2 separate regions of the Homo sapiens genome follow, and region 1 is linked to region 2. Evidence: fine-mapped expression QTL. A gene starts in region 2. The other region holds a variant in brackets. All regions are shown on one strand. Distances are from middle to middle.

Evidence for each region.
Region 1: its variant is fine-mapped to the expression of MIF4GD in whole blood (TwinsUK, PIP 0.95).

Annotation. Positions count from the first base shown.
Region 1 is chr17:75,352,520-75,355,416 of GRCh38, forward strand. The region is part of intron 2 of GRB2 (growth factor receptor bound protein 2); the gene reads right to left. Among named protein-coding and RNA genes, the nearest start is that of GRB2, 52 kb to the right of the region's middle. The variant G/GGGT (reference allele first, on the strand shown) is at 1,751.
Region 2 is chr17:75,269,943-75,272,839 of GRCh38, forward strand. It overlaps MIF4GD (MIF4G domain containing), which reads right to left and starts at 1,289. Exons shown (of 6, transcript NM_001370592.1): 1 at 1,202-1,289; 2 at 172-303. The coding sequence starts at 253. MIF4GD-DT (MIF4GD divergent transcript) reads left to right here and starts at 1,357. Exons shown (of 1, transcript NR_036520.1): 1 at 1,357-2,897. RefSeq lists silencers at 856-925, 1,036-1,695, 2,666-2,715 and an enhancer at 2,204-2,897.

The DNA.
Region 1 (2,897 bases), 83 kb after region 2:
CAGTACCAACAGAACATCCACGCTCCCTGGAAATGGAAGGGTGACCAGGCATAAACGGTTCATTCTCCTGCTCACAATGACAAGTAGTTTCCCAAAGGAGAAAAGCGATCAGACATATTATGTGACAACTAAGATATCCCTACTGTTTGCAGCTACAGCCTGGTATCACTCAGCCTTTATGATCCCCTCTATGCAGTAAAAGTGTTTTAATGTCACGGATGTCTATGTATAATAAATCAATAATGATTAAGGCTATCAACTCTGAACTGACTAGCACCAAAATTTCCAGTTTTCTCTAGTTGAATTTTCATCATCAAGCTCACAAGACCGTTCTCTGGGAGAAAAAGTTAACTTGTTTTTTTTTTTTTTTTAAAAGACATAGTTGGCCAGGCACAGTGGCTCACGCCTGTAATCCCAGCACTTTGGGAGGCCGAGGTGGGTGGATCAGAAGGTCAGGAGATCGAGACCATCCTGGCTAACATAGTGAAACCCTGTCTCTACTAAAAATACAAAAAATTAGCTGGGCGTGCTGGCGGGCACCTGTAGTCCCAGCTACTCGGGAGGCTGAGGCAGGAGAATGGCGTGAACCCGGGAGGCGGAGCTTGCAGTGAGCCGAGATCGCGCCACTGCACTTCAGCCTGGGCGACAGAGCAAGACTCCGTCTCAAAAAAAAAAAAAAAAGACACAGTTGTACCTTGTATTCATGGGGGACTGGTTCCAGGACCCCTGCATATACCCAAATCTGTGCATACTCAAGTCCCACAGTTGGCCCTCTGCGTAAGTGGGCTGTGCATCCTGTGAATACTGTCTTTTTGACACACATGTAGACTGAAAAAAATCCGTGTATAAGCGGAACCATGCAGCTCAAACCTCTGTTGCTCAAGGGTCAACTGTACTTCCTTTACTGGTTGGGCTTCTGTATTTCCTCGAGTTTCTATGCCCTTAAAAAAAAAACCATTTTTACCGGGCGCGGTGGCTCACACCTGTAATTCCAGCACTTTGGGAGGCCAAGGCAGGCAGATCATGAGGTCAGGGGTTCAAGACCAGCCTGACAACACGGTGAAACCCCGCCTCTACTAAAAACACAAAAATTCGCCAGGTGTGGTGGCACATGCCTGTAATCCCAGCTACTCAGGAGGCTGAGGCAGGAGAATCGCTTGAACCTGGGAGGCAGAGGTTGCAGTGAGCCGAGACTGCGCCACTGCACTCCAGCCTGGGCAACAACAAAAAAAATTCTGGCCAGGTACAGTGGCTCATGCCTGTAATCCCAGCACTTTGGGAGGCCGAGGCAGGCGGATCATCTGAGGTCAGGAGTTCAAGACCAGCCTGGCCAACATGGAGAAACTCCGTCTCTACTAAAAATACAAAAAATTAGCCAAGCATGGTGGTGCATGCCTGTAATCCCAGCTACTTGGGAGGCTGAGGCAGGAGAATTGCTTGGACCCGGGAGGCGGAGGTTGCAGTGAGCCGAGATCACACCACTGTACTCCAGCCTGGGTGACAGAGCGAGACTCTGTCTCAAAAAAAAAACAAAAACGAAAGGGTGCGTGAGGGGCAAATGTTTTGAGTCCTTGCATGTCTGGAAATGTCTTGATTCTATGTTTATACTTGAAGGCTATTTCGGCTGGGTATAGATTTCAACAGAATCCTGGGCTGAACAGCATTTTCCCTCAGAACTTGGAAGAGACATTGTTTTCTGGTATTCAGAGTTGTACAAGCAAAGTTTATTCATGGTCTTTTTTTTTGGGGG[G/GGGT]GGGGGGGAGATGGAGTTTCACTCTTGTCTCCCAGGCTGCAGTGCAATGGTGCGATCTCTGCTCACTGCAACAACCTCCACTTCCCATGTTCAAGCGATTCTCCTGCCTCAGCCTCCTGAGTAGCTGGGATTACAGGTGCCTGCCACCACAACCGGCTAATTTTTCTATTTTTAGTAGAGATGGGGTTTCACCACATTGCCAGTGCTTCTCGTAGGAACACAAACCCTACTGTAAACTGCTCACGCGAGGGATCTAGGTTGCCCGCTCCTTGTAAGAATCTAATGCCTGATGATCTGAGGTTGAACAGTCATCCTGAACCATCTCGACCCCCCACTTCCATGGAAAAATTGTCTTCCATGAAACCAGTCCCTGGTAGCAAAAAGGTTGGGGACTGCTGGATTCAAGAATTGCTGGAAGAGCCCACTGCAGTCTTCCAAAAGATGTGACAGCTATTATTCAAACTTCCAGAAAGAGAACAGTGAAAATAGAAGAAAAGACACTACGAAATGTTTTTTAAAAAGGAAAAACTTAACTTCTCATAGCTGATGAATATGAATTTTCAGATAGGAAGGGCGCACTGAGAACCCAGCCATAGTGAATAAAAACAGATCTATGGCCGGGCACAGTTCATGCTTGTAATCTCAGCACTTCGGGAGTCTCCCAAGTAGTTGGGATTACAGGCACATGCCAACATGCCTGGCTAATTTTTGTATTTTTAGTAGAGACGGGGTTTCACCATGTAGGCCAGGTTGGTCTCGAACTCCTGACCTCAGGTGATCCACCTGCCTTGGCCTCCCAAAGTGCTGGGATTACAGGCGTGAGCCACCGCGCCTGGCCAGGACCTGTACTCGTACTTTTGTCCCTGTTCCTAGCAAAACAAAATTCTACGAAGGTGCTGAATCCCATCTCTTCTTGCCTGCTCAAGGACATTAACTCAGTTATTTTCCTTTCTTCTGCATCATCAATTTTAATTAAAATCTCTACTGGATTTTTCTAATCAACAAATAAAAATGCTGTCATTTCTCTCATCTCTGGGAGTGGGGTGAAAGCAGACTTCTTTTGACTCTACTGCCTCATCTCTCTGTTCCCCTTTAAATCAAAACTTTCTGGAACAGTTGTCTATACTCTCTGTCCCAGTTCTCTCCT
Region 2 (2,897 bases):
TAATGGCCTCAATGTAGCTTGTCTTCCAGTTCAAGAATTACGTTGCCGACTCCTATCGTCAGAGAATGAGGGGAGGGGTGGAGGCATTCACCAGGCTCAGCCTCTGGTGCTGCCCACAGGGGCCCTTCTCTGTAGCTCCTGACCCCAGCTCAGGAGGGGTCCCGTGCTCACCTTTGAGTGCTGTCTTCAGCAGCTGCTGGGTCTCTGCATCAAAGGACTGGATTTTATACTCCTCTCTACTGGGCTCCCCCATGACTAGCCAGCCCCGGTAGCTCTTGACTGGGCTGGGAATAAGGACAGCACCTGAGGAGAAGAGGCGAAGGGAGCGGCCTCAGGTGTGGAGCGCAGGGCGGGTTCCGTCCTGCAGGCCCTGGACGGGGCTGACGGCGCGCTCGGGACAGGGACTCCTGGGCGGTCCGTGGCGTGCGGTGGTTGGCTGAAGGCCCACCAGGCTTGGCTTCTGGTGGGGACTGGGCATCAGCCAGGCACCTGCTGCTCAGTTTAGAAATCCCTCGCTTGTGGGATTACACAAGAGCGAGAAGCTGAAGCAGGAAAGCGCCCACCCTCCAGTCCCAGCAGGAGGCAGGAGTAGACTGGGGCAGGGTGTGTGCGGGCGGACGTTACAGTTGCTTAAATAAACCGGCCTGACGTTGCTGGCCCAGGAAGATGCCGGGTGAGGGCCAGGCTGGGAACTCCAAGCGGTGCGACTCTGTCCCCAGCAGGTCTCCGAGCCCCTCTCCCCAACCCTCTCTTTCTGGCTTTCGCCGAGTCCTTCGGTCTCAACACCCGCCGCTGCATCCCCCGGATGGGGCCGGCCTGCGTGGGTGGGGACGCAGGCGCCCTGTCCGCCGCCCCTGCCGGGAGCAGCCTGAACTCCCCAGACCCGTGCCAGCTTCTCCCTGGGACAGGCTGGTCGGATCGGCTCCCGAGTGGCAGTAACCCGGCCCTACGCACTCGAGACTCCTAATTCCTGAGCTCCATTCTGGAGCCTTCCTCTTACTGGGGGGCAGGATGATGCGCCCCGGAGAGGTGGCTCCCGCCGGAGGCTCCCCTCTGGCCGTAGGAGGCGCCTTTAGGGTCTCCAGCCCTCGGCCGTTCCCCCCGCGCCCGGAACGCCCCTCCCGGAGGCACAGGGCGGGCTGCGGAGCCCACGGCCCAGGGTCCCGCGGGCGGGAGAGGCGGCGTGGGAGCCGGGACCCACCTGCCGGGCCGGTGGCGCGCGCGCGTGCCCGGGGCCGCTCGGCGCCTGGGAGCGCGCAACCAGCGTCCGGCGCTGCGGGGCCCGCCGTGAGCTCATCTCCTCGCGCGGCGCCGGGGAAGGGTCGGCTCGCCCGCGCCACCTGCCGGGCCCCCGGGGCACTGCCCTGGCCTCCAGGCCGCCCCGGAAGCCGCGCCGCCTGCGTGGGACCCTGCGACGCTGCCACCCAGCCGCAAGCGGAACTCGCTTGGCTCGTCACCCCTTCACCCGGTGCGCCTGGGCCGTGTCCGGGCCCACGCCGGACCCGCCGGCACCTCGATCTTGCGCGTGGCCCCGCACCCAGCCCTCCCCGGAGCTCAGGTGCACTGGGCCGGGAGACACCGCTGGGCTGCGCGGCGTGGGAAGAGCCTGCAGAGCGCGTGGTGGGGACCTGGTGGCAGGAGGAACAGCATCAGCCCTGGTCGCACCACTTTCCCCGCTCCCCCAACCCAGGTAGAGAAGGCAGGGGCTGCAGGGCCGGGGCCAGCCACAACCCTCTCCCGCTCCAAGGAGGACATGGGCGAAGCGAGTTTCAGGTCATAGGGGCAGCCCCGAGAAAGGGGCCCCATTGGCAACTCGCGGCCGTCGGTTGTTGCGAATGCCCCTGAAGTGGCGCGGACCCCACCGCCCGGCGTCTGCCCTGGGTGACAGGAGGGCACCTAGAAGTGGGGGAAGAACTGCCGCCGCTCCTGCCGCGCGACCGGGAGGAGCGCTGCCGGCGCTGCCCGCGTTCTCGCCTCCTTTTAAAAGAACCGCCAAAGTGGTCACCGAAAACGGAGGAGGAAGAGAACGCTCAGCTGCAGCAAAAGAAACCAATGGGCAGGAAAGATGAAGAGAAGAAACTTTAACGGAATTTCATAAAAAATGCATTCAGGCAGCTGCATCCTCGTGGCCCCCGCCGCAGCCTGGACCTTGGGAACCAGCAGCCCAGAGCCAGGAAGCCCCAGCATTCAGGGCCCAGACAGACCCCAAAATCCCAGACCAGAGGCAGGGAAGGATGGTGCGAGGAGGAGCCCAGGACCCACACGCCAGGGCCAGGGCCAGCGCCGGCTCCCAGTGGGTGCCTCTTTCCAAGGCTGGAGAGGGAGGCAGAATGGAGGGCTTCCCAGGTCGGAGCAACCCTACAGGCCGGGCAGATGGAGGGAAGGGTGGAGGTCATGTTCTGGAGACCTCCCCTCAGCCTGGAACTGGTTTCTCCTCTGCCTCTCCGCCTGTGGGTGTCCCTCTGCTCTGGTAACACCCCAGGCACCAGCTGTGCCCTCACCAGGCTACGTGCCCGCCCCTTCCTTCTGCCATCCCCATCAGTGGGCTGCTTCAGAGCCACGGCCCTTCTGGGGCTACAGGGGAGGATGCACCCGCAGCATGCTCTGCACTGAGGAGCAGGCAGTGGGCGCTGATGCCACCTGTCCTGCTGATAGCTCCTCACCCAGCAAGGCTGACCCAGCTCTGGGTGAAAGAGGAGTCAGTGAGGTAGACTGGGGAGAGGCTGCACCTTCACCCACGCCTGCCCACAGCATGGCCCATCCACTTCCTGCACGGGCGCTGGGATCTGCTTTCCATGGAGCCCCACGGCCATGACCAGCCCGGTCCTGGGAGAGGACAGCCTGGGTGGTGGTGTGTCTGCAGACACGAAGGTCTGGGCACGGGGCCCAGAAAGTGA